7 linked regions of the Homo sapiens genome follow. The protein of the gene in region 1 purifies or fractionates together with the protein of each later gene. This does not show direct contact. Each region holds a gene or a part of one and is shown on either strand. Other genes may lie near its edges. The genes, in order: PCDHB3, DNAJC11, CLCN3, TMTC2, TNFRSF10A, ADGRF1 and ESYT2.

Region 1 (4,270 bases):
ATTCTTAATGTTACTCAGTCTATCTTTATATTTTTATATCATTTTTACATACATTTGAATGAGCTATCCTATTAAAATTTTAATATTAACTTTGAAGGTCTTGTTTTGAGATTAGCAATGGTGTAGAGCGCTGTGTTGGTATCAAAAGTCTCTGATCAACCAACTCATTACCTGTAGGATTTTGGATGAGTCACAAAGTTTCTTTTCTTCTACCCAAATGATAGCAGGTATTTGAATAGCTTGCAGTTATACTCAATATAAAGACATAAAAGTGAAATTGCTGTTATTTTTAGTATCACTAGTATTAAGAGCAAACATTCTTGATAATTGTGTAGAAGTACAAAAGCGGCTACATTGAACACATATTTGCACTGTTTTATTTCTGTACCAACAACCTTGCAATGGCTTCCTTTTGTTCTTAGAATAATAAAATCCAAGCGCCCATTATTTGGCCTTGGTTTACCTTTTCAGCCTTCCTTTCCACTTACTCTTGAGACATTAAGTTTTGTATTCACTGTACTTCATTCATTATCTATTAATAGCTATGCTTTGCTCTCTCAGGGCCTTCACACATTCTACAGTCTTAGCCTGGCACACTTCTCCTATTTCATGTTTCAGATTAAATGGTGCACCTTGGGGGAAACTTTCTTAATCACTCTCCATTAAGTTAGGTCCCCGTATTGCATACTTTCAGTGCACTCAGTACCTTTTCTATGTAGCACTTTTCACACTGTTTAAACATCTGTTTAAAGACTGTACACCCACTAGATGGAAAATTGTTGTAAGATATACAGACATTGTCTTGTTACCACCACTTGCCTAACTTCTACAAACTCAACAATTATCTGTGGAAATAAACTAATACAGATGAAATGAATAATTGTAAATTTGCTCTGAAATAAGAAGAGAAAGCACTTTAAGTGTTCCTTGAGCATGATAATCTGGAAGAAATTAGGTATTTGTAGTCCTCTGGATCCACCTCTGACATGATATATTTTCTTTTTTACCACCTTGCAGGAGGTGTCTTTTCCTTGTGTTTTTCTGGTATATGCAATTCGGGCTCATTTCACAAAGTTTAGGAAAAAAAGAAAAACATAAATAGGATAGTGAAGCATGCTATCATCTAGAGCAAAAATCTTTTGAAGTTTGTGTGTAATTATTACAAAAGGGGAGGGGTAAACTAGTATGTGTACACTTCCGTTAAATCGTGTAAATGAGGACTCTACCAGGAAGAATCGCTGCTCGTAGATAAAAGTGCATTTTATTTCCCTAGATTGCATTTATTTAATTCATATAACATGAGAAACTCCTCCAGTAGCGTCAACTAGGGTTGATAAGAATAATCGATAAAGCAAAATAAAAACACCTTCTCCAAGATTTTGTAACTGCAAGCGAACGCATGGTGGCGCTGTTGACTAAGAAGGCGAATTAAACCACAGGCATTGTGCATGCTCGGTGACGCACGGATCCAGTGTGGTAAACCAGCGGTTGAGAGCCCAGGCAGATTTTTGAGCCAGCAAGTCTGAGCCTCTGGAAAGGCTTATTCACTAGGCCGTCTACAAAGGTTGTGGGGCAAAAGACTGTTTCCCAGCTCTGTCTGAGGTTCAGCTTGGCGACATTCCCTGGAAGAGCGTGACGGAAAGTGCAATGGAGGCGGGAGGAGAGCGATTTCTTAGACAAAGGCAAGTCTTGCTTCTCTTTGTTTTTCTGGGAGGGTCTCTGGCTGGGTCCGAGTCAAGACGCTATTCTGTGGCTGAGGAAAAAGAGAAGGGCTTTTTAATAGCCAACCTAGCAAAGGATCTGGGACTAAGGGTAGAGGAACTGGCCGCGAGGGGGGCCCAAGTTGTGTCCAAAGGGAACAAACAGCATTTTCAGCTCAGTCATCAGACAGGTGATTTGCTCCTGAATGAGAAATTGGACCGGGAGGAGCTATGCGGCCCCACAGAACCATGCATACTACATTTTCAGATATTACTGCAAAACCCTTTGCAATTCGTTACAAACGAGCTCCGTATCATAGATGTAAATGACCATTCTCCGGTATTCTTTGAAAATGAAATGCATCTGAAAATCCTAGAAAGCACTCTGCCAGGAACAGTAATTCCTTTGGGAAATGCTGAGGACTTGGATGTGGGAAGAAACAGCCTCCAAAACTACACTATCACTCCGAATTCCCACTTCCACGTACTCACTCGCAGTCGTAGGGACGGAAGGAAGTACCCGGAACTAGTACTGGATAAAGCGCTCGATCCGGAGGAGCAGCCGGAACTCAGCTTAACGCTCACCGCGCTGGACGGCGGCTCTCCCCCTCGGTCTGGGACAGCCCAGATAAACATCCAGGTCTTAGATATAAACGACAATGCACCAGAATTTGCACAGCCGCTCTATGAGGTTGCAGTTCTAGAGAATACCCCCGTTAACTCTGTCATTGTCACTGTCTCGGCTTCTGACTTAGATACAGGAAGTTTTGGGACAATATCATATGCATTTTTTCATGCTTCTGAAGAAATTCGCAAAACTTTTCAGCTAAATCCAATTACTGGTGATATGCAACTGGTCAAATATTTGAATTTTGAAGCGATTAATAGTTATGAAGTCGACATCGAGGCCAAGGATGGCGGAGGCCTATCCGGAAAGTCTACAGTCATAGTCCAGGTGGTTGATGTCAACGACAACCCACCGGAACTGACCTTGTCTTCAGTAAACAGCCCTATTCCTGAGAACTCGGGAGAGACTGTACTGGCTGTTTTCAGTGTTTCTGATCTAGACTCTGGAGACAACGGAAGAGTGATGTGTTCCATTGAGAACAATCTCCCCTTCTTCCTGAAACCATCTGTAGAGAATTTTTACACCCTAGTGTCAGAAGGCGCGCTGGACAGAGAGACCAGATCCGAGTACAACATTACCATCACTATCACTGACCTGGGGACACCCAGGCTGAAAACCAAGTACAACATAACCGTGCTGGTCTCCGACGTCAATGACAACGCCCCCGCCTTCACCCAAATCTCCTACACCCTGTTCGTCCGCGAGAACAACAGCCCCGCCCTGCACATCGGCAGTGTCAGCGCCACAGACAGAGACTCAGGCACCAACGCCCAGGTAACCTACTCGCTGCTGCCGCCCCAGGACCCGCACCTGCCCCTCTCTTCCCTGGTCTCCATCAACGCGGACAACGGCCACCTGTTTGCCCTCAGGTCGCTGGACTACGAGGCCCTGCAGGCGTTCGAGTTCCGCGTGGGCGCCACAGACCGTGGCTCCCCGGCTTTGAGCAGCGAGGCGCTGGTGCGCGTGCTGGTGCTGGACGCCAACGACAACTCGCCCTTCGTGCTGTACCCGCTGCAGAACGGCTCCGCGCCCTGCACCGAGCTGGTGCCCCGGGCGGCTGAGCCGGGCTACCTGGTGACCAAGGTGGTGGCGGTGGACGGCGACTCGGGCCAGAACGCCTGGCTGTCGTACCAGCTGCTCAAGGCCACGGAGCCCGGGCTGTTCGGCGTGTGGGCGCACAATGGCGAAGTGCGCACCGCCAGGCTGCTGAGCGAGCGCGACGCGGCCAAGCACAGGCTGGTGGTGCTGGTCAAGGACAATGGCGAGCCTCCGCGCTCGGCCACCGCCACGCTGCATGTGCTCCTGGTGGACGGCTTCTCCCAGCCCTACCTGCCTCTCCCGGAGGCGGCACCGGCCCAGGCCCAGGCCGACTTGCTCACCGTCTACCTGGTGGTGGCATTGGCCTCGGTGTCTTCGCTCTTCCTCTTTTCGGTGCTCCTGTTCGTGGCGGTGCGGCTGTGCAGGAGGAGCAGGGCGGCCTCGGTGGGTCGCTGCTCGGTGCCCGAGGGCCCCTTTCCAGGGCAGATGGTGGACGTGAGCGGCACCGGGACCCTGTCCCAGAGCTACCAGTACGAGGTGTGTCTGACTGGAGGCTCCGGGACAAATGAGTTCAAGTTCCTGAAGCCAATTATCCCCAACTTCGTTGCTCAGGGTGCAGAGAGGGTTAGCGAGGCAAATCCCAGTTTCAGGAAGAGCTTTGAATTCAGTTAAGTGTTAATAAGGATCTACTGAGCCTCGTCTTAGTTAATCTGTGGAAAGTCCTTTTTTACTGCTTTGTCCATTGGAGAGGTCTTTTTTGGTCTGGTTCAAGGCAAGTAGCAAGAATAGAGCAAAATATCAAATCCAGGGATGGCTTAGGTTTCATTAACAGTACTGGAAAGTAGTTGTGTGGCTCTGAATGTTTTGTATTTCAATCGAGAATCCTTAGTCGATAGAACATTTT
Region 2 (3,500 bases), on another chromosome or scaffold:
GTAGAGATTAGGAAGAGAAAGCTGGACAAATATATGAGCTGGAGATTGAGGGGGTGGTCCAAGCTGGCACTTGCAACGTGAGTCCTCAGGGCATGAGAGCCATGAGGCTGGACATGACTGCTTGGGAGTGAGTCGAGAGAGAAGGGCTGTGCCCTGCAGTGGTGCCTCCATTTAGGGGTTTGGGAGACAGCAGCCATCTGGTACGGAAAGCCAGAGCAGGGCGTGGTATCCTGGAAACTCAGGGCAGAGAGGCTGTAAGGGCAGGAGGGAACGGCCACCGCGACAGCAGGTGCAGAGACCAAATGAGATGAAGAAGAATCACCCTCTGATCTGCCACAGGAGGGAGGGTGCCCCACTGATGAGGTGAGAAAGGCTGATTCTGGAGAGGGCTGGTTTTGCTGGAGAGGCCTGACTGGAGCACGTTTAGAAAGAAAGAAGACGGATGCAAGCGAAAACAGACATTTTTTTTTTTTTTTTTGAGTGGAGTCTCGCTCTGATGCCCAGGCTGGAGTGCAGTGGCGCCATCTCGACTCACTGCAAGCTCTGCCTCCCGGGTTCACACCATTCTCCTGCCTCAGCCTCCCAAGTAGCAGAGACTACAGGCGCCCGCCACCACGCCCGGTTAATTTTTTGTATTTTTAGTAGAGACGGGGTTTCACCGTGTTAGCCAGGATGGTCTCAATCTCCTGACCTCGTGATCTGCCCGCCTTGGCCTCCCAAAGTGCTGGGATTACAGGTGTGAGCCACAGTGCCCGGCCAAAACCAGACAACTCTTTTGAGGAACTAAGGAGAGGACAGTGACTAGACTCAGGTGGAGCAAGGGTATGTGTGCCAATGGAAACCCCTGGTGAGAGGGATGAACCGATATGGCAGCTGCTACTGGAGATGCTGTGCCCGGGGGATAGCTGCCAGGCCAGTGACTCCAGGAGGACTGGGCTGCTAGGATGCATCCTGTGACATCAGGCGAGGCTGCTGGAGCTCAGACGTACACCTCACTCACTCGGTGTTGGAACTATGCACTGCTTGACATTTGCTTACTCAGCAAAGACACAAGCAACTGTATTTTTTTTTTGAGATGGAGTCTCACTCTGTCACCCGGGCTGGAGTGCAATGGAGCGATCCTGGCTCACTGCAAGCTCCGCCTCCTGGGTTCAAGCGATTCTCCTGCCTCAGCCTCCCGAGTACCTGGGACTACAGGCACCCGCCACCACCCCTGGCTAATTTTTTGTATTTTTAGTAGAGATGGGGTTTCACCATGTTAGCCAGGATGGTCTCGATCTCCTGACCTCGTGATCCACGGCACCTGGCTGAATTTTTTTTTTTATATTTTTTGAGACGGAGTCTCACTGTCCTCCAGGCTGGAGTGCAGTGGCACGATCTCCATCTCAGCTCACTGCAACCTCCGCCTTCGGGTTCAAGCAATTCTCCTGCCTCGGCCTCCCAAATAGCTGGGATTATAGGCGTGTGCCACCACGTCTGGCTAATTTTTGTATTTTCAGTAGAGATGGGGTTTCACCACGTTGGCCAGGCTGGTCTCAAACTCCTGACCTCAGGCGATCCGGCCGCCTTGGCCTCCTAAAGTGCTGGGATTACAGGCATAAGCCACTGCACCTAGCCAAGCAACTGTGTCTTTAAGAACAAAATTACAATGCAAAGGCTATTTCAGCCTTAACTTGGGTAAAGCCTGGTTGAGTGAAGGTGACAGGCATTCCTTGACCCGAAAGGCCTAAGTTCAACTTACTTGACTTTGAGAGAAACACCCTGTGGAACTCCAACGCTGACAGCTGCACCCAAAACGCTGTGCCTGGAGATCTTCCTCTCAGCTCCGTACTCCACCACCGTCCCAAAGAAGCCTGCTCTGCAGGGAGAGAACGCGGTCTGTGCCTGTGCCCCTCATTCATCACTTCAGGGGCAGCTGTCATTTGAGAAGAGGCCAGGTACCTTCCCTTCCCTCCCTCCAGCCTCCTCGACCCCCAGGGAGCAGATTCATGACAGAAGAAAGTTGGGACACCCATGGTCTAGTTCTTCCACAACACTCTCTAAGCTCCTCAAGGGCTGGGACTGTAGTGTTAAATCCCCCACAGCCTCAAAATAGGAAGCTCTCCAAAAATGTCACACACACGTAGATATTCACACGAGCAAGGTGTCTTACACCAACTGGTTCCACTGTGAAGACCCGCATGCAGTACCAGTGTGCTTCCATTTTAGCCAGGCCAGGACTTACTTGAGGGATCCTTTCACACGAGTCTGATCGTCATCTTGGAATTTGTGCTGATAGCTGATCAGTGCAAAGGAGTGAGGGATTCCCAGCTGGGGAGACAGAGGGTGCAAGGATGCGTGGCTAGGGCGTGTGACTCTGTGGGGAGATGGGTATCTGCCCTCCCACTAGCTCTGGGCATCTGCTGCACACAGGCCTTTAAGGCAGGGGTCACGGTCTGGCAGCCGCAGTGAGTGCACCATGATTTATTAGCAGCCAGTAATTAAAAAGTGGGAGACTTCACTGAAAACCCAGTTTTCTAGCTTCTCACAAGAAATAAAAAACTCTGGTGACACTGAGCCTATGCTCCTAGGTGGCAGCGGCTGGTGAGAGCCAAGGAGCAGTGGCCCGTGTGGGGCTTCTCATGTACCAGCCCTGGTGTGGCCACAGGGGCGTCCGAGGGCATGATTCTGCTATGGGGCTTCATCTGCCCGCCCCCAATTCCGTGGGTGGCTCCCACCAGACATTAAGATGTTGTTCTGCTTTAAGATGATCCAACAAAGCTGCCCCAGGCGCCTGAAGGCAACTGCATTTCATACTCGAAGGTTCCACCAGGTCACTCGAGTGTGAGCACCGAGAGCCTGCCCCTCAGGGCCCTGTATGGGCTTAGACTTAGTGGTGATCAGGACGCAGGATTTAAGGGGAGCACTGAGTGCTTGGGAGGAGGGGTCCTCCCAGAGCTCTGTCTGCAGGAGATGATGGCTGCTCGGCTCACCTGCAGGGCCACAGTGAAGTGGCTGGTTTTAGTGTCTCGGACGATGCTAGTGTTCATGGCTGACTGGATACCCCATCGCCACTGCAGGTAGCCCACGGTGTTCTTGTCTAGGTTCCGAGCTAGGACAGTGGTCAGGCCGGGTCGGATTCCACGGGATGAAAACTGCAGAGCACAGTTTGTTGTCACAAAGCTGGAGAGACACAGAGACAGAATAGGTCCTGGATAGCACCTGCTCTCAGCTGTTCTGTTACTTCCTCTCTGCCTGGCTAAGACCTCACTTACTGTCACGTCTATGCATCCCTGGGCCAGCTCCCAGTAAAAAAAAAAGCAGGAGGTCAGGCCTCTATCCACACAGAGGGGGAGGGTCCTAGCCAGAATCTTCCTAGTAACCTCCCGACTCCCCTCAGCCGCCCTAACTTTAGCTACAACCAAATAGGCACCTGACTGTCTGCATTCCTATGCCAGCAGATGCAACCCCACTCAAGTTAGAATGGATGGGGGCCGAGGAGTGCAAGTCAGAATCACCAA
Region 3 (4,016 bases), on another chromosome or scaffold:
GCCCAGAACTGTCTTTGAGAATATTCAATGCTGCCCTAGAAGAAATAGGAGAACAAAACTCACGTGTTCCTAGCCTGCAAAACAGTCGGTGGAGCACGTATATGTAAAAATAGAAAAGGCTGGCAAGACCAGGTCATATTTAATATTCATGAGGCACAAGATATACAACACGCACTTAATATTCATTAATCAGTATATATTCATAATATACTAAATATACAGGAGATATTAAACGTTCACGGGTCTTAATTCTGCCACCCAGTGGAGACACTCAAAAGTGATCTCGCCAAAGAAATGCAAAACCTGTACCTGCCCACCAGGCTATTAGCATGCTACTGCTGTGGCCACCATTCTTTCACTGCATCGCCCTGCCCTGCATCGGAATATAGCACCTTGAACACGGGATCAGGTTTACTGAATTCTGTGACCCACGCTGGGAGCTCAATAAATGTTTGCTAAACGGAAATGAACCCAATTCAGACCGTGTAGAAACCCCAGATTATATCTTTTCTCCAAACATTCAATTTCCAAGCAGTATTTTTGAAAATGCGTGATGGCTAAATTCGAGTTATCCTTTTTGTATGTATGTTAGGCACACAACCGGCGATGACATACAAGGCGAGGTGACACCACTGCACTCCCAGCCCGCACGTCACCTATAAGCACAGGGGGCTTTTGGTGCTGGTTTATTTTTGAAGGCTGGTACTTCTCTTCGATCTAAGTTTTAGGAACCTGTGCTCGTCGACGGCTGCCAATACTTTTTATTTTCAAGGCTGACGCTCGCCAGAGTTTCACAAGCTGCTCCCGGACGCTGTGGTCTCTCGCTAGAGTGGATCCGAACTCTGCGTGACGCTGGGAACGGCCAGCGTCTGTTGCCTCACGAAAACATCTCCCACAAGGTGGCCGCCTCGCGCGAGGTCAGCAGCAGGGCAAACAGGGATGCGTGAGTGACTGACGTGAGCTAATCGCTAATGACAGGCTTCACAGCCCCGGCGGCCCTCAGAGCCAGGCACCTCGCACCCCTCCTCCTCCTCGAGACCCAGTCCCGGCCCGCCCACCGTTCCCACGCCGCCCAATAGGCGCCGACGCTACTCAGCGAGTGGCCGGAGGAGGAGGTGTTGGGACGGCCGGACGCTGAACGGCCGTTCACGTCAACGTAGTGACGTCACGCGTCGACGCTGGGGCGTACCTTTCGGGCTCCTGACTCCTGCCGCTTCTCTTCCCCTTCCGTGGGTCAGGGCCGGTCCGGTCCGGAACCTGCAGCCCCTTTCCCAGTGTTCTAGTTCGCCCGTGACCCGGAATAATGAGCAAGGAGGGTGTGGTGGGTTGAAAGCCATCCTACTTTACTCCCGAGTTAGAGCATGGATTCAGTTTTAGTCTTAAGGGGGAAGTGAGATTGGAGATTTTTATTTTTAATTTTGGGCAGAAGCAGGTTGACTCTAGGGATCTCCAGAGCGAGAGGATTTAACTTCATGTTGCTCCCGTGTTTGAAGGAGGACAATAAAAGTCCCACCGGGCAAAATTTTCGTAACCTCTGCGGTAGAAAACGTCAGGTATCTTTTAAATCGCGATAGTTTTCGCTGTGTCAGGCTTTCTTCGGTGGAGCTCCGAGGGTAGCTAGGTTCTAGGTTTGAAACAGATGCAGAATCCAAAGGCAGCGCAAAAAACAGCCACCGATTTTGCTATGTCTCTGAGCTGCGAGGTGAGTTGCATTGTATGAGCGAAGAGTTGTCAGCTCTCCTGTTCACAGATTTTGGGTCAACTGTGAGGCCACAGCGCTCATCTTGGTTTCTCTTACAATGTACCTACATAATGTTGAAAGGTACATCGTGAATTGGGATGCTAACCCATCCTGATTAGGTATATACCCTCAGACATTCTTTAAAATTTCACACATCTGCTTCAGGAACCGTCGAAGGACCTCTGAATAAAATGGAAGTGGGTTCCAGGAGAAGATTAACTTTAAACTTAGAGGAGTGGGTTTTACTTTCGCTAAATTTTCCCCAATTTAAAAATAATATTCAGTTTTTCTATCTTTAGATATATATGTATGTAAAATATTTTTTGTGTATATATATTTGTGGTTTGATCTTAAACTTGACCAGAAACTGCCTTAGAATCTCAGAAATTGACTTTGCATGTGGTATGCTTTGTTTGTATGGCATTTTAAAACTGCGGAGCATATAGAAGATAATTACATATGCATTGTGCATATTAGAAACTGAGATTTCTGTTTCCTTTAGAAAGAAATTCCTGTTCATGGAATTGAATCAACAGCGACCATACCTTTTACACAGATATATAATTCAAAAGTTCAGTTCTACAAACGTAAACTTTTGGAGCTATGCAGTTCAGTTACTGCAGCATCATTGTGGCTTGTATAATTGTTGAATCTTTCCAGAAATGCTTTTACTTTCATCTTTAAAGAGTTAATTTAGAAGATTTTTTTTTATGAGGTCGGTATGGAAATAACTGCGTCCCTTTGTGAGTCACTACAAAATAATATTTGTTCAGTTCAGGAGTACATATGGGAGTTAAAGTGCTTGTGTATAAATTGTTGACTTTCATCTTAAAAGGTGCTGCTGCTATTCAGTGTCTTGTTCTATAATATGGCTTTAAAAACCATGTGTGTGACCTACAGATATTTTCTCAACTTGAATATGCGTATATGGCCTCTGGTTAATACAGACAGCCACTGTTGGCAGAATTCATCACAGATTGCATACCCTTCCCACCCCTTACTCCCCTCAGCACCTCGAAAACTTTGCTGCTTTACTTGAATGATGAGTCACATTATTTTAAGAAGTCAATATGAATGTATAGTACCTACATTTTTACTTGGAAATTGTACTTCAGTATGTGTTATCAGTCATACATAGCTCATTAAGAATGTAAATATTTAAACTACTTTTGGATAGATGTGGTTCAGGGGAACAGATTTGTTGATGTTGTGGGTTTGTGTTAGTAAATTGGCTATTTTCCAGGTCATGTTAGTGGTAGGCTTTCCATTTCCTGTTGTGACATGTTGGTCATAATTTTCAGACGGCTCAGGAAGCCAGATTTGATCTCTGTGGTGGGTCTTATATCAAAGCAGTATCCTGTGGGGTTTGGCCACTATCGCTGTTTTGTAGAACTTCCAACTTAGTTTGGTAGTCAAACTTGTCAGCAGTGATCTAAAATGTATAATATTTTATAATAAGTGTTAATATTTGTTGAATGCATTCTGTGTTTTCAGGCTCTTTTCCAAGTAATTTTTGTGAATTATCTCAATTTTCACACTAACCCCACGAAGTAGGTACTTTCACTAATCCCGTTTTACATTCGTAGAAACTGAGGCACAGAAAATTTAACTAACTTGCCCTACAGTAACTGTCAGAACTGAGACTGAAGCCTGGGAGTATGATTTCAGAGTTCCTGCTCTCTGCTGCACCATAGTGTAGTTTAGAATAGTCAAAATGCTAGAGAAAAACAAGGAGGGACGTGGCTTGTAGGTTCAATTATAAAAGCAATGTAAAATTACAGAGAGTCTGGGAAACAGTGTTTTTAAAAGGAATACTCATAATCTTACTACTCTAATAAACATTTTAATTTTTTAAATATGCACATTCACATCTGTACATAAACATTGTAGCTGTGATTCATTTTGGTTCTTAAAGATAAATCTTCAGTGAAGTTTAATATGGAGATTGAACCCCACTGCCTCACTTTCATTGTTGAAATCCAGAGAGATTTGATCTGCAACTTTGACTGGAACCAAGTTAAATAAATATATTTCTTGCTATTTCTTGTGAGAAATAATCGAACAGTTTCTGTCTTTTAAAATCATGAAGACTATTTAGTTTTCAAAGTTTCTGTCTTCCACAGCAACTTTTTATTGGTTTATTGTTTTATCTTTCTTCCTTGTTATAATCTGAGTGTTATATTTGTATGTGTGTTTATTCCGTTGTCCTCTTGAAAGCCTCTAGCATTTATACCCGCTGCCCCTGAGGAATTTGGGTTTTTTTGTCTGTTTTTAT
Region 4 (3,500 bases), on another chromosome or scaffold:
ATACAAAAATTAGCTGGGCGTGGTGGCGTGCTCCTGTAGTCCCAGCTACTCAGGAGGTTGAGGCAGGAGAATCACTTGAACCCGGGAGGCAGAGGTTGCAGTGAGCTGAAATTGCACCTCTGCACTCCAGCCTGAGTGACAGAGCGAGACTCCATCTCAAAAAAAAGAAAACAACATTGTGTTTGCATTGATGGCTAGCATCAGTTGTTTGGTGTTGATGATGATAATAATAGCTAACATGTAACCAGGTGCTGTGACTCACGCCTGTAATCCCAGCACTTTGGGAGGCCGAGGCAGGCAGATCACCTGAGGTCAGGAGTTCGAGACCAGTCTGGCCAACATGGTGAAACCCCATCTCTACTAAAAATACAAAAATTAGCCAGGTGTGGTGGTGGGCACCTGTAATCCCAGCTACTGGGGAGGCTGAGGCAGGAGAATCGCTTGAACCCAGAAGGTGGAGGGATCATGCCACTGCACTCCAGCCTGGGCGACAGAGTGAGACTCTGTCTCCAAAACAACAACAAAAAATTGCTAACATATGTTACCTATGTTACATACTCACATTATATTGCATGTAATCATTTACTCTTCACAATGATCCTATAAGGCAAGTATAGTGCTCTCTAGTTTACAGTTGAGGAAACTAAGGTACAGAGAGGTGAAATAACTGTGTCTGCTGTCTCACAACTTTAGTGTATCCAGTTGGCTACACAATGGATTTTCTTAACTGCTGCATTGCACTGGGCAGCACTGAAGCAGGGCAGGTTAACAAAGGCCAGTCTTTTTTCTTATCTTTCTTGCAAAGAACATTTCAACCTACTGTTATTTATTTATTTTTTTTAATTTAAGTTTGGCCTTTGCTTACTTTCAAGTAGAACAATTGAAAGCATGTCAGAACAGCGCCATTTGATGTTGGAAGAATCTAAGCGTCATTCCTGCTCTGAAGGACTACTGGTCATTACTTACATGGGTGCTTATGACTGAAAAGGTCACGAGACAAAAAAAAAAAAGCTGTGAGAGAAAGACACACAAGGACAGTTTGGGTGGCAGTGTCACATCATTCATCAGTTTTACAATAGTGTTGGCCTTTGTCAACATTTTCTAAAGGAAAAATCATAAGGCAACAAAAACAAAGAGCCACAAATGAACAAACCTGGACACAGGCTAAGACTTCCTTGAAGACTTCAGAAACTATCTTTTTTTTTTTTTTTTTGGAGATGGAGTCTCGCTCTGTCGCCCAGGCTGGAGTGCAGTGGTGGGATCTCAGCTCAGTGCAAGCTCCGCCTCCCGGGTTCACACCATTCTCCTGCCTCAGCCTCCCGAGTAGCTGGAACTACAAGCGCCCGCCACCACGCCCGGCTAATTTTGTGTGTGTGTGTTTTTAGTAGAGACAGGGTTTTACTGTGTTAGCCAGGATGGTCTCGATCTCCTGACCTCGTGATCCATCGTCCTCGGCCTCCCAAAGTGCTGTGATTACAGGCGTGAGCCACCGCGCCCGGCCAGAGACTATCTTTTTGCTTCAAAAAGACAGTTTCTCAGTCCTGTGTTCTCTAGGGAATTCTGCCAACAATTGTTTTTTTCCCATATCTGCTGCTCTGAGTTCCTCCACCTTTCCTAGAGTGGAAAATATCCTGATTCCTTAGTGCCTTTCTGAATTTTCAACACCATTTCACGGAAGCAACCTCAAAAATTATATCAGCATGAAATTTTGTTTTGAGTCAAGGTGTTTCATTAGCTGTGAAACAGCAGAAGAGGTTTTACTATTTCTATTTTGGACTCATAGAAGGAAATGCAAATGAATCAAAATCTATTATGCTTAGGTTTGAATGACTCCCTTTTTCTTATTTTGCTGGAGGATTACTCAGATTCTATTAAGGCCCTGTTGGTCTGTATCTTTCTTAATAGGATGTTGAGGTGGTGTAATGCATCCCTTATCACTGACCTGCATGTGTGACATGACTTGTATATTAAATTCCAGTACATTTTAGTCTTCCATATTTTTTATCATAATATTCATTGGTTAAATAAAATCCTACTTAAGCAGATAACACACATTGGAGAATTTTATCATACTAATGTCTCCCTTAGTATAGTATGTTTTTCACATGGATGAGATACTCTTTTGCTCCTTCATTTTTGTTTTATTAACTATGTTTGTCTTTTTTTCCATGTAAATTTAGGGCTGTGTTTCAAAGTTTTTTTTCTTTTTTTTTTTGAGACGGAGTCTCACTCTATTGCCAAGGCAGGAGTGCAGTGGCGCGATCTCGGCTCACTGCAACCTCCACCTCGAGGGTTCAAGCAATTCTCCTGCCTCAGGCTCTTGAATAGCTGGGATTATAGGTGCCTGCCACCATGCCTGCCTAATTTTTGTATTTTTAGTAGAGATGGGGTTTCACCATGTTGGTCAGGCTGGTCTCAAACTCCTGACCACAGGTGATCCACTTGCGTCAGACTTCCAAAGTGCTGGGATTACAGGCATGAGCCACCATGCCCGGCCTCAAAGGTTTTTTTCTCACGGTAAAATTATGAGATGTGTTAATTGTGTTCTTTGTGTTGAAACCCTTTTTGGTGGAGGGTCTTTGGATGTAGTATATCTCGTGGCTGCTGTAGGCTGCTAGATTTATTGCTATAAAGATAAATTCCAGCAGCTTTGAACAGATTTTTTAATGGGTGAATTTTTTATCAAAAGCCTTTACATAGTTGGTCATGGCATTGAACTAATAGCATGTAGAAATCCAGGTTTGGAAAAGATGATTCTTCATTCTTTGGGATCTGCCACAGAAAGGATGGAGTATTACTCTAAACAAAGCGTGCCTCACAGTTTTTCTCACTGCCTTGACAAAGCCTTATCCCAGAATGGTTTGCCTTTGAGCTCTCCACTGCCCTGGCCTTGATGGTATGAGGGTTTCTGGATTGATATTAGAGATATTTACATCAATATCTAGGTTAATGTCTAGTTGAAGCCTGGGTTTCATTCTCTATTGCTTGAAATAAGCTCTTTCTGGCAACACTCTTTGGCAGTTTGGCAGTTGTTTTTTTTTTTCATATTTCTTTTAAATTTTAATTATAACCCATCAAGTCTTAAGCAATTACTTCTGGGTAGACTCTTGATGAATGTCATAGCAGGGTGTTTTAATTTAATAGATCCAGAATAACATCTGGTTCTAATATTTTAAAAGCCAATTTATATGGAAATTTATTTAATACACAGTCAATACATGGAGACTTGTAAAAATCAAAATCAAAATGGAAAATCAATCTACTGTTCTGTAATAGGTCTTCTTTTAATAAAGGATTTTGCTCATGACTGGGTTCAACTGTTACTAGTTAACACTCAAAATATCAGTTTAGAAAAGGTAGCAACTTATTTCTCATACTGAAGAAATAGGAGGTAGTTAGCCCAGGGTCACTATGGTCTTTTGTAACAGGGACTGAGTTTCCCTCAATCTTACTGCTCTGCTCTCTGCATGATTTCTATTCCTAAGGACACCTTGTGGGCC
Region 5 (4,151 bases), on another chromosome or scaffold:
GTTAGCTCCAATAGATAATTCAGTGAAGGTTGTGAACCCAAATTTTAGGTAAAGCAGTTTCCATGGCAGTTTGATTTTTAAAGGCCAAACCTCTGCAGACTCCAAACAGCATCGCAGAGAACACCACCTAGAACCAACTAATCAGGCCCAATGCTGCTTAGAACAGCAACATAAAAGCCTGGATACAGGAACTCCATCCTACTTTCTCATTCAGCAGCAAACTTCAGTTTCCAAGCAATATTGGAGCCAAACAGTATTACAAAAGAATACCAAGTTTACTGAATTCCAATTTCCCATGACTCTAGCAAACACATAGAAATAATCACCAAAACATAATACAACTGCTGCAGCAACAAACAAGCTCCAAGAGTGTCCAGACTGAAACAGGCAGGGTGCTTCCTCTCTCCATTGGTTAGGTTTGATCAACCTGCCAACAAAAATTGCTTTCAAATTTCTCAAATTGAGAGGAGCCAGTCGTGCTGCCTGGTACCCACAAAAGACACTCACTTGCCCTGAAACAACACACAATTACAAACAAGCCTCCAAGAGTGTCCAGACTGAAAGGCAGAGTGCTTCCCTCTCACAGTCACTTGGGCCTGTTCAACCTGCAAATGGAAATTCCTTTAAAAATTTCTCAAACTGAGAAGAGCAGATCCTGCTGTCTGGGCCCACAAAGGACAATCACCTGTCTGGATGCAAATGTCAAATTTCAAAGGCAGTTCTTCGGAAGTAATCAGGAATGTGGTTGGGGCCGGCTGCAGTGGGACCTGAGAGAGACTGAAACTCACCTCCAGCCAAAGTTAGCGGGGCAACTGCTTGGGAGGGCTTCTGAGTCTCCTGGCCCATGGCAGCAGAGCCATGAGCAACACTTTCCCAGCCAGGGAACCAAAACCTGTTACCAAAACCTCAGGGGTTTGGTCTAGGTCCCGCTGCTCGCTGCACAGAAAGCCAGTCACTGAGATGATGAGTATTGCCAAGAAGGCTTTAATAGGGTGCTGCAGTGGAAGAGATGGGAGCTCAGTCTCAACTGTATCTCCCTGACCAACTAAAACTAAGGGTTTATATAGGAGGCAAGAAATGTAACAATGTGTAAGAAAGTAGGAGCTAGAATGGGGCAAGGAAACAATCAAGATGAATGAGGGGTCCCACATCCCATCATGGTCTGGATGTAGTGATCTGGTGAGTTTCAGTTCTTTGCTACTTTTTTTGAGATGCTTGCAGGTCTTTCCTGAGGAAGTAACTCAGATAAAACAAATGTTAAGTTTCCAGTCGTTAAGGACCAGAAGGGTCAATTTCTGTTTATCAAAAAAACCTTTCTATGGGACAATTGGGTCAGTTTCAGTTTTTGTATACTCATTGCATATTAAATTATATTTTACACATATTCAGTACCACACATTAAAATGAATGTCACTTTTTTCTTTTTATGTTCTTTAAATGAGGCTGTTAGAAAACATAGCTTGGTACTCCTGGCCCCTTCTATCCCTGTGGATGGTGGTGTGCAGTGCTTTGCACACACATCTCATTTCATTCAATCCCTGGTAGTCCTGAGATCTGGGCAGGTTTGCTCTGTCTTCAGGTTTGCTTCTTGGTCAGGGCCTGCTTGCCCCCACCTAGCTCTGCCCCAGCCTCAGGGAGGGCAGAGGTCCCCTGCCCCAGACCCTGCACTTTCCACAGATGCAGAAGTGGCCACCCTGGGACATGCTCCCATGACAAGCGCAGCCCAGGCAGCCCGCATCCTCTGAGCTCCCGCTGCAGCCACTCTCCCTCCCTCCCTCGGGCTCTCACCCACTTTGCTTTCTGCCTCCGTAGGGTCAATCCATCCTCCCCAGGTGGGTTCTCAGCCCTCTCTGAGGGCAGATTCTCTGGTGACCTTGACGCCCGTCAGCGCCTTGGGGGCCACAGAGGCCAGGCAGTGTGGGTGGGCTCTCTGTGGATGGGAGGTGGGTGGGCAATGGAGCAACAGGTTTGCCCATGCAGGGGGCTCTCCAGGTTCTCTCCTTGGGTTCTGGGCCTGATGTGGGATCCTCTGCCCCTTCTGAACTGAGTCCCAACTCATCTGGCTGTCTCTGTGGCTTTCTCCACCCAGCTCTGATGCTGTTCTTTGACAAGTTTGCAAACATCGTGCCCTTTGACTCCTGGGACCAGCTCATGAGGCAGCTGGACCTCACGAAAAATGAGATCGATGTGGTCAGAGCTGGTACAGCAGGCCCAGGGGATGCCTTGTATGCAATGCTGATGAAATGGGTCAACAAAACTGGACGGAACGCCTCGATCCACACCCTGCTGGATGCCTTGGAGAGGATGGAAGAGAGACATGCAAGAGAGAAGATTCAGGACCTCTTGGTGGACTCTGGAAAGTTCATCTACTTAGAAGATGGCACAGGCTCTGCCGTGTCCTTGGAGTGAAAGACTCTTTTTACCAGAGGTTTCCTCTTAGGTGTTAGGAGTTAATACATATTAGGTTTTTTTTTTTTTTAACATGTATACAAAGTAAATTCTTAGCCAGGTGTAGTGGCTCATGCCTGTAATCCCAGCACTTTGGGAGGCTGAGGCGGGTGGATCACTTGAGGTCAGAAGTTCAAGACCAGCCTGACCAACATCGTGAAATGCCGTCTTTACAAAAAAATACAAAAATTAACTGGATGTGATGGTGTGTGCATATATTCTCGGCTACTCGGGAGGCTGAGGCAGGAGAATCACTTGAACCCACGAGGCAGTGAGCTGAGATTGCACCACTGCACTCCAGCCTGGGACACAGAGCAAGACTCTGTCTCAAGATAAAATAAAATAAACTTGAAAGAATTATTGCCCGACTGAGGCTCACATGCCAAAGGAAAATCTGGTTCTCCCCTGAGCTGGCCTCCGTGTGTTTCCTTATCATGGTGGTCAATTGGAGGTGTTAATTTGAATGGATTAAGGAACACCTAGAACACTGGTAAGGCATTATTTCTGGGACATTATTTCTGGGCATGTCTTCGAGGGTGTTTCCAGAGGGGATTGGCATGCGATCGGGTGGACTGAGTGGAAAAGACCTACCCTTAATTTGGGGGGGCACCGTCCGACAGACTGGGGAGCAAGATAGAAGAAAACAAAAAAAAAAGGAAAAGCAAATCCATCTGATCTCCTGGAGCTGGGACACTCTTCTGCCTGTGGACATCAGAGTCTAGGATTTCTAGCCCTTGGACTCCAGGGCATACACCAGTGGCCTCCCGAAGGATCTAAGGATTTTGGCCTTGAACTAAGAATTACACCATCGGCTTCCCTGGGTCTTAGGTTTTTGGGCTGGATTAAGTCCTGCTTCCAGCATTTCAGGGTCTCTGCTGTGCAGATGGCCTGTTGTGGAACTTCTCAACCTCCATTATCAGATGCATTAATTCCTCCAATAAGTCCCATTTCATATATAGTCATTTACCCCACAACATTTCAGTCAAGGGAACAGCATATAAGATGGTGGCCGTCCAGTAAGCTAAGGTTAATTTATTAATTATTTAATTTATTTACCTTGAGTTCAAGTCACAATTAAAGTACATATACCTTTGGAAATTTGGACTTTTGTATATAAAAGTACTTTTTTTTGGCGGGGGCAGTGGGCAGCTCTCATCCTAAACAAATGTGTTATTTGGTACCTATGCAAAGATTTGGTTAAAAGAAAGAAAAGAATTGCTTCCATAAATGGAGCATTTTCTTAGAAAAACTGGAGCCCATCTAAATGTTTTTCAAGGTCACGTGATCTGAGATAATCTTTAGTAAATAGAAAGCTAGTTTAAGTTTCTTGGTTTAATTAAAACAGACAATTCTTAAGAGTTGTCAACATTATTTACAGTTCACACATACAACTTCTACCTGGATTTACTAATCAAAACACTTACGTGTGGCCGGGCATGGTGGCTCACGCCTGTAATCCCAGCACTTTGGGAGGCCGAGGTGGGTGGATCACAGGGTCAGGAGATCAAGACCATCCTGGTTAACACGGTGAAACCCCGTCTCTACTAAAAATACAAAAAATTAGCCGGGCGTGGTGGTGGGTGCCTGTAGTCCCAGCTACTCGGGAGGCCGAGGCAGCAGAATGGCGTGAACCTGGGAGGCTGAGCTTGCAGTGAGCCGAGATCGTGCCACTGCACTCCAGCCTGGGTGACAGAGCGAGACTC
Region 6 (3,500 bases), on another chromosome or scaffold:
TTCTCTTATCTATAAAATGGGAATGATACACTGCTTATCTCATGAGTTATTGCAGGATTGACTTAATGTATTGATCTCATGTGCTTTCATGTCTTCAAACACATCTGTATGCTGATGGATTCTAAATTTATTACTTGAGCTCGGGCACTCCCCTGAACTCCAGACTCAAATAACCAACGGCCTACTTGACAGTCTCCACTTGGTTTTCCAGCTGGGATGTCAAATGTCATGTGTCCAAACTGGGAATCCTCTGACTCTCCCCTTCCTAACCTATAACTTATTTTTCCCACTGTCTTCCCTATTTCCATTACAGCAATGCTGTCCTTCCACTTGCAGAGACCCAATCCTGGAGCCATCCTGTGCTATAATTTCTTTTATTGAGGTATAACTTGCACACAGTTATGTGCTCAAACTTTGTGTATGACTCTATCAGCTTTGAAAAACGCTTGTGCAAGTCCCTTCCTGTCAAGATGGAACATTCCCATAACCCCAAAAGTTCTCTTGTGTTGCTTTCCAGCCTCTTTCCATGCCATCCCCTCACGCCAGAAGCAACCACTTGTATGATTTTTATCATCACAGGTTAGTTTAGTCTATTCCAGAACTTCACATAAATAGAATAATCCAGTTTTTTTTTTTTTTTGCATGTTCGGCGTCTTTCACTCAGCATAATGTCATTGAGATTCATCCTCATTTTTCTATCAGTGGTTCCTTCCTTTTTGTAGTCCAGTAGTACTCCATGGTAAGAATATACAAAAACTTGCTTTTCCATTCCTTGGAGTTATTATTGACTGATTTCTTTCTTTCACATCCCAAATCTTCTCCATTAGTAAGTTCTATGGCTCTGGCTCCAAATAAAACCTGAATTTGACCACATGCATAGCTACCCAGCTAGTTCAAGCCACCACCAGCTCTTTCCTAACTGAGTTCCCTGTACCTTGCTTGCTTCCCTTCCATCTGTTTTCTACACAGCAGCCTTTACGGTCTTAAAAAGATAAATCTTATGATGCCACTACCTTTTAATAAAGAAGAAAACTTTTTAATAAAGAATGAAATCGCAACTCTAATGTCCTATGAGATCTGACTCCTGGTACCACTCCAATATCATCTCCTGCTATTGCTCCCTTGCTGCTGAATTTCAATCATCCTAGTATTTAAGCTTGTCAAACTCACAGGCATTTTCCCGCCTTAGGACCTTTACTTGTGCTGACATTCCACACCAGTGTTCTTTGCATAGCTGGCCTTTTCTTCTTTGCATAGCTGGCCTCAGGCCTCAGCTTCAAAGACCCACAGCACAAAAAAGCCTTCCATAACCAGCTTTATTTAATGTGGGGCCCCATAATTATATCTGTATATATACAGATGTATTTATACATATATATATATCATATATATATGTATTTTTGGTGGATACTTGTTTTTTTATTTGCCTTGCCTTATCCACTAGAATGTAAGCTCTGTTTACTTTATTCCTATGGACCCCATGGCATGTACACACAGCATAGGCCGGGAGTGAATGAATAAATAAGTAGTGAATCTCATTTCTCTTTCCCCATAATCACTGCAGAAATGGAAGCATCGTTGCTGGGTATGAAGTTGTTGGCTCCAGCAGTGCATCTGAACTGCTGTCAGCCATTGAACATGTTGCCGAGAAGGCTAAGACAGCCCTTCACAAGCTGTTTCCATTAGAAGACGGCTCTTTCAGAGTGTTCGGAAAAGGTAATGCTGGATTCCCATCCTCTGCTTAGGTTAAGAGAGTCCTTTAATTAGTAGTTCATTTGTGTCCTCAGGAAGTAGATTTGAGACGTTTGAATAACGAATTGTTCTCTAACTGCCTTTCAGCACAAACAGGCAGCTGTTTCCCCCAGCACCAAGATGAAACTTAGCTTCAACTGACTATTTCAAATTCTTGCTAATTGGAAATCTGATCTGTACCTCTTAGTGTAAACAGTGTGGAGAACTGACTTCACTGCAGGCTGTGATGGAAAGGGCTCAGCAATAGTTGACTGGCACACATGTTGAAAGAGCCCTGAGGCTGACAATATTCCTAAGTCACAATCCAAGAAATTATGTCTTTAACACATATAAAGACAGACAGACAGACACGCACACACACACACAAACTGTTTTTCTTCAGATATTTATCTTTTTCTTTTACATTCAATCTTACGCCTTTCCTACCAAAATTTGTACCACTCTCTTTCAACAACATTTATTCTATAAATATTTACTGAGAATCCAAAGTGTCTAGACACTTAAAATGCAGCAATGGTGAAAACAAACAAAAATCTTAGCTCTGGCTGGGTGCAGTGGCTCACGTCTATAATCCTAGCACTTTGGGAGGCCAGAGTGGGCAGATGACTTTAGGTCAAGAGTTCAAGATCAGCTTGGCCAACGTGGTGAAACCCCGACTCTACTAAAAATACAAAAATTAGCCAGGCCCAGTGCAGTGGCTAAAGCCTGTAATCCCAAAACTTTGGGAGGCCAAAGAGGGCAGATTGCCTGAGATCAGAAGTTTGAGACCAGCCTGGCCAACATGGTGAAATCCCGCCTCTACTAAAAATACAAAAAAAAAAAAAAATTAGCCAGGCGTGGTGGCACACACCTGTAATCCCAGCTACTCGAGAGGCCAAGGCAGGGGAATCACTTGAACCCAGGAGGTGGAGGTTGCAGTGAGCCGAGATCACTCCACTTAACTCCAGCCTGGGTGACAGAGCGAGACTCTGTTACAAAAATAAATAAATAAATAAATAAATAAATAGCCAGGCATCGTGGTGTGCACCTGTACTCCCAGGTACTAGGGAGGCTGAGGCAGGTGAATCACTTGAGCCTGGGAGGTAGAGGTTGCAGTGAGCAAAGATTGCACCACTGCACTCCAGCCTGGGCAACAAGAGTGCAACCCCATCTGAAAAAAAAAAAATCATAGCCCTTGTGGATCTTCCAGTTAATGTTTCCATCTCCTAGTTCCAATCATGATAAGAATGCATTATTAAAGGCTAGCAGCAAAAGTAGCAACTGGTTGCAATGTGAGCTATGCTTAAAGAGGTACAGGTAGGAAGTGCTACCCACAAATAGCAACTGCCCATCTTTTAACCATAACATTACTGCTTTATTCTATAGTGTCTGGAAAATTGTCTGGCTTTCTAATGTTCCTTTAAAGAGTAAAAATATTTCCTGAGAGTAATCACATCTTTCCTTATTATCACCTAATACTTACTAGTTGATAGCCCATTAAAAGTGATATTGTTGGCACAGATCGGACACCTGGAAGGAGGAGTCAGCCTCAGGGAGGGTAAGGCATCAGGAATGAGTAAGGAATGTTGAGAGGGATGAAGCAGGACATCAAAGACAAACTTCTCTTACTTCTGAATTTTGCCTGGATTTCATCTCCAAAAATGAGTTCTAAAACATTTGAACATGACTACATGGTTTATATAGAGTGCCAGGATATTCTAGGATCATTTTTCTTTGTTGTTTTCTTTTGTTTCCAGCCCAGTGTAATG
Region 7 (3,500 bases), on another chromosome or scaffold:
TCCCACGCGCCCGCTGCTGTGCTGCTGAGTGTGGATGCTGGATAGGATGATGTAGACACCGCCTTTAGGATTTCCAAACATCCATTTATGTTTCATTTAGAAAGGACAAAGCAATTAAACCTCTAGAGACGGTGCTCGTAAAGGGTGTCACCACTGCGTATGTCACATGACAACGTTTTGGTCACCGAAGTACAACGGTCCCCTAAGATCATACTGTATTTTTACTGTACCTTTTATGTGTTTAAATACACAAATATGGCTTGGCATGGTGGCTCACGCCTGTAATCCCAGCACTTTGGGAGGCTGAGGTGGGCAGATCACCTGAGGTCTGGAGTTCGAGACCAGCCTGACCAAAATGGAGAAACCCTGTCTCTACTAAAAATACAAACTAGCCACGTGTGGTGGTGCATGCCTGTAATCCCAGCTACTAGGGAGGCTGATGCAGGAGAATCACTTGAACCCAGGAGGCAGAGGTTGCTGTGAGCCAAGATCGTGCCATTGCACTCCAGCCTGGGCAACAAGAGCGAAACTTTGTCTCAAAAAGAAAAAAAAATACACAAATATGTCACAATTGCCTACAGTATTCAGCACAGTAGCATACTGTACAAATGTGTAGCCTAGAGCAGGAAGAGTGTGTGTGTGTGTGTGTGTGTGTGTGTGTGTGTCTGTGTGTGTGTGTGTATTTTTTTTTTTTTTTGGAGACAGAGTTTTACTTTGTCCCCCAGGCTGGAGTGCAGTGGCACAATCTCATCTTACTGCAACTTCCGCTTCTTGGGTTCAAGCAATTCTCCTGCCTCAGCCACCCGAGTAGGTGGGATTACAGGCGTGCACTACCTCGTCCGACTAACTTGTATTTTTAGTAGACACGGGGTTTCACCATGTTGGCCAGGCCTCCTGAGTAGCTGGGACTATAGGTGGAAGCCACCAGGCCTGGCTAATTTTTAATTTTTTTATGGAGACGCTGGTCTCTAATTCCTGGCCTCCCAAAGCACTGGGATTATAGACTTGAGCCACCATGACTGGCCTAATCAGGAAGAATTTATTTTAACTTGTTTGTTATATTAATAAGTATAAAGTCAGGTGACTGTTGCATTAATTGCATTTGTTAACAATGATACTGTGGGCTTACGAACTATTTTCCTTTTATGCAATTTTCTCTGTCCTATTAGTGGTTTAAAATATGATATAAAAATTTGGTGCTTATAAATAGCTGTTGGAAACATAGGAAAATAAAATTAGCACCATTTAGAAAGATGATAAAAATGTAGAGTTCAGTACATCACTCTTGAGAAGTTCATATATTCTTGCCACTTAGATAATGATCGTGGGGGATACTGTTGTAGAGGAGTCTAGCAAAACAATCCCTCCTAGACTTTGTGGTCAGTCAGCAAGCGAAGAATGTGGGGGCCTGTGCAGCTGGGCACCTGACCGCGTTTGCTGCAAAGGAGCAGCCCCCTTCTGGAGGGGTAGGCACTGTGGGGTGGGGGCCTGGCTTTCTTGGCTGTGAGAGAGAAAATGGCAGAAGCATTATGGAAAGACAACCGTCACTCTGTTACAAGCAGAGACCAAGGACTTGGAACGTCCTCCAAACTCTGGGCTTGAGAAATGAAGGCCGAAGTCGCTGCTGAGAAAGCCACTAAGAAAGGAGTTTGGGAGATGCCACCAGGCAGCCGTCGGGGGAGGCAAAAGCGCCTCACGCATTCTGTTCCTTGTTGCTTCTCGGTTTGTAGATAAACATGAAATCAAAGCTTGATAAAGCATATCTGAATGTGCTGCTCATTCTCTTTTTCTCGGTCCTAATACCTCGTCTTATCTGGTTTGTGTTGTAAGAAACCTCATTGCCTTCTCTGAAGACGGCTCTGACCCCTATGTCCGCATGTATTTATTACCAGACAAGAGGCGGTCAGGAAGGAGGAAAACACACGTGTCAAAGAAAACATTAAATCCAGTGTTTGATCAAAGGTACGGTATTTTATCCAGCTGAGGATAGACTGCCCGGTTGAAGTGACGGATTAAGAAGGCCCTAAATGGTGCCTTTGAGTGGCCAAAGCACATAAATCAGCTGTTGAGAAGTTCAATCAGAAACCAACTTTTAGCAAACATACTTCTCAAAACAAATAAGCATTTTGACCTTCATGTAGAAGCTCTAAATACAGTAAATTCAAGTTACAACCCTGTGGACATGTAGACTAGTGATTAAATAAAGATCAGGTTACTGATGGCCCTGAAGAACTCATTTTTGGGGGTTATATCTGTTGACACTTAACTATGTTATCAATTAAAACTGAGAATTTAAGGATACATATATTTTTAATTTTATTTTTAAATAACAGTAAGCCCCAAACATCTTACCGTATGACATATTGGAAAAACAACTGTATTTCCAAAAATAAAAAACATAATGAAAAGAATGGTATTATTGTTCAGCATTTTTGCTCATCTCTTTAGTGGTCTGGCTCAAGAGGGGCTGGAGCCTGCTTCTGTGGTCAGGGTGATTTGGTGACCTCCTAGGAGGGTCTCAGAGACACCCCCAGGGGTCATTGGCCCCCACTTTTAAAGAGCTGCTAATCTGTACCATTTTGGTATCTTAGGTGATTGTCCCCTAGTGCTTCAAAACCCACCCTTGTTTTGGGAAATGATAATAATACAGTTGTATGGTGTCGCTATCTGCTAATTCAGTTTACGTTTCATCTTTAAACATCCTCCTCATTCATTGTACTTTCATACAAGTAGCTTTATGTAAAACACCCATCAGAAACTGGCAGGCGTGCATCAGCCCGATGAGGTTGTGCAGGGTGCTCCTACCCATCCGAGGCATTTAAGCGTCTGGAGACTCCACTTGCCCCCCAGCACGGTGGCCTGGGGCAGGCACCCGCAGCCCGGAGGAGAGACGCCCTGCAGGCACTTTAGTGCAGCGTCTGGCTGAGCATCGGGAGTGCTTTGGAGGCCTTCTCCCTCCTGCGAAGCTGCAAGCACATACTTTTTTTTATTGGAGATGGTGGGAATAGGGCCTGAAGACTAAACCAGACTGAGTGGAAAGCCTGAGTGAGTGGGCTGCTCTGGAATTGCTGTTTTGTCAACATTATCCCACATTTTAATCCCCTGGAAGAGTCAGACATGTTGAGAGACGCTCCTCACCCACCCGTGAGTGAGCCAGGGACCTTGGGACCCAGACATCTATGGGATGCCAGAGCCTTCTTTTATGTGTGGGAAATGAAAAAAATGTTGGTTTTTGAGTCTTCCTGAAATGCCAGATTAAAACATTAGGTAGAAGAACTCAGTTTTATAATAAAAAACAAACATGACATTTGGAATGATCTCATGAGCAGAAATGCCATTTTTAGTTATAAGAAAATACAGCAGAATGATGGATAAAGTAAGGCTCTCGTTTCCTATTTCAGCTTTGATTTCAGTGTTTCGTTACCAGAAGTGCAGAGGAGAACGCTCGACGTTGCCGTGAAGAACAGTGGCGGCTTCCTGTCCAAAGACAAAGGGCTCCT

The links.
Region 2: the proteins of PCDHB3 (region 1) and DNAJC11 purify together in Homo sapiens (affinity purification with mass spectrometry; one large-scale study listed by BioGRID and IntAct). This does not show direct contact.
Region 3: the proteins of PCDHB3 (region 1) and CLCN3 purify together in Homo sapiens (affinity purification with mass spectrometry; one large-scale study listed by BioGRID and IntAct). This does not show direct contact.
Region 4: the proteins of PCDHB3 (region 1) and TMTC2 purify together in Homo sapiens (affinity purification with mass spectrometry; one large-scale study listed by BioGRID and IntAct). This does not show direct contact.
Region 5: the proteins of PCDHB3 (region 1) and TNFRSF10A purify together in Homo sapiens (affinity purification with mass spectrometry; one large-scale study listed by BioGRID and IntAct). This does not show direct contact.
Region 6: the proteins of PCDHB3 (region 1) and ADGRF1 purify together in Homo sapiens (affinity purification with mass spectrometry; one large-scale study listed by BioGRID and IntAct). This does not show direct contact.
Region 7: the proteins of PCDHB3 (region 1) and ESYT2 purify together in Homo sapiens (affinity purification with mass spectrometry; one large-scale study listed by BioGRID and IntAct). This does not show direct contact.

The regions. Positions count from the first base shown.
Region 1 is NC_000005.10:141,099,003-141,103,272, forward strand, and holds the start of PCDHB3 (protocadherin beta-3 precursor), read left to right. Parts: upstream 1-1,470; 5' UTR 1,471-1,647; coding exon 1,648-4,038; 3' UTR 4,039-4,270. UniProt on the Homo sapiens protein: Potential calcium-dependent cell-adhesion protein. May be involved in the establishment and maintenance of specific neuronal connections in the brain.
Region 2 is NC_000001.11:6,642,817-6,646,316, forward strand, and holds part of DNAJC11 (dnaJ homolog subfamily C member 11), read right to left. Parts: intron 3,163-3,500; coding exon 2,973-3,162; intron 2,311-2,972; coding exon 2,225-2,310; intron 1,859-2,224; coding exon 1,742-1,858; intron 1-1,741.
Region 3 is NC_000004.12:169,619,362-169,623,377, forward strand, and holds the start of CLCN3 (H(+)/Cl(-) exchange transporter 3), read left to right. Parts: upstream 1-1,216; 5' UTR 1,217-1,702; intron 1,703-4,016.
Region 4 is NC_000012.12:82,850,906-82,854,405, forward strand, and holds part of TMTC2 (protein O-mannosyl-transferase TMTC2 isoform 1 precursor), read left to right. Parts: intron 1-3,500. UniProt on the Homo sapiens protein: Transfers mannosyl residues to the hydroxyl group of serine or threonine residues.
Region 5 is NC_000008.11:23,189,952-23,194,102, reverse strand, and holds the end of TNFRSF10A (tumor necrosis factor receptor superfamily member 10A), read left to right. Parts: intron 1-2,089; coding exon 2,090-2,409; 3' UTR 2,410-3,651; downstream 3,652-4,151. UniProt on the Homo sapiens protein: Receptor for the cytotoxic ligand TNFSF10/TRAIL. The adapter molecule FADD recruits caspase-8 to the activated receptor.
Region 6 is NC_000006.12:47,014,833-47,018,332, reverse strand, and holds part of ADGRF1 (adhesion G-protein coupled receptor F1 isoform 1 precursor), read left to right. Parts: intron 1-1,564; coding exon 1,565-1,716; intron 1,717-3,488; coding exon 3,489-3,500. UniProt on the Homo sapiens protein: Adhesion G-protein coupled receptor (aGPCR) for N-docosahexaenoylethanolamine (synaptamide), an omega-3 fatty acid lipid highly enriched in the brain.
Region 7 is NC_000007.14:158,735,510-158,739,009, reverse strand, and holds part of ESYT2 (extended synaptotagmin-2), read left to right. Parts: intron 1-1,830; coding exon 1,831-1,962; intron 1,963-3,401; coding exon 3,402-3,500. UniProt on the Homo sapiens protein: Tethers the endoplasmic reticulum to the cell membrane and promotes the formation of appositions between the endoplasmic reticulum and the cell membrane. Binds glycerophospholipids in a barrel-like domain and may play a role in cellular lipid transport.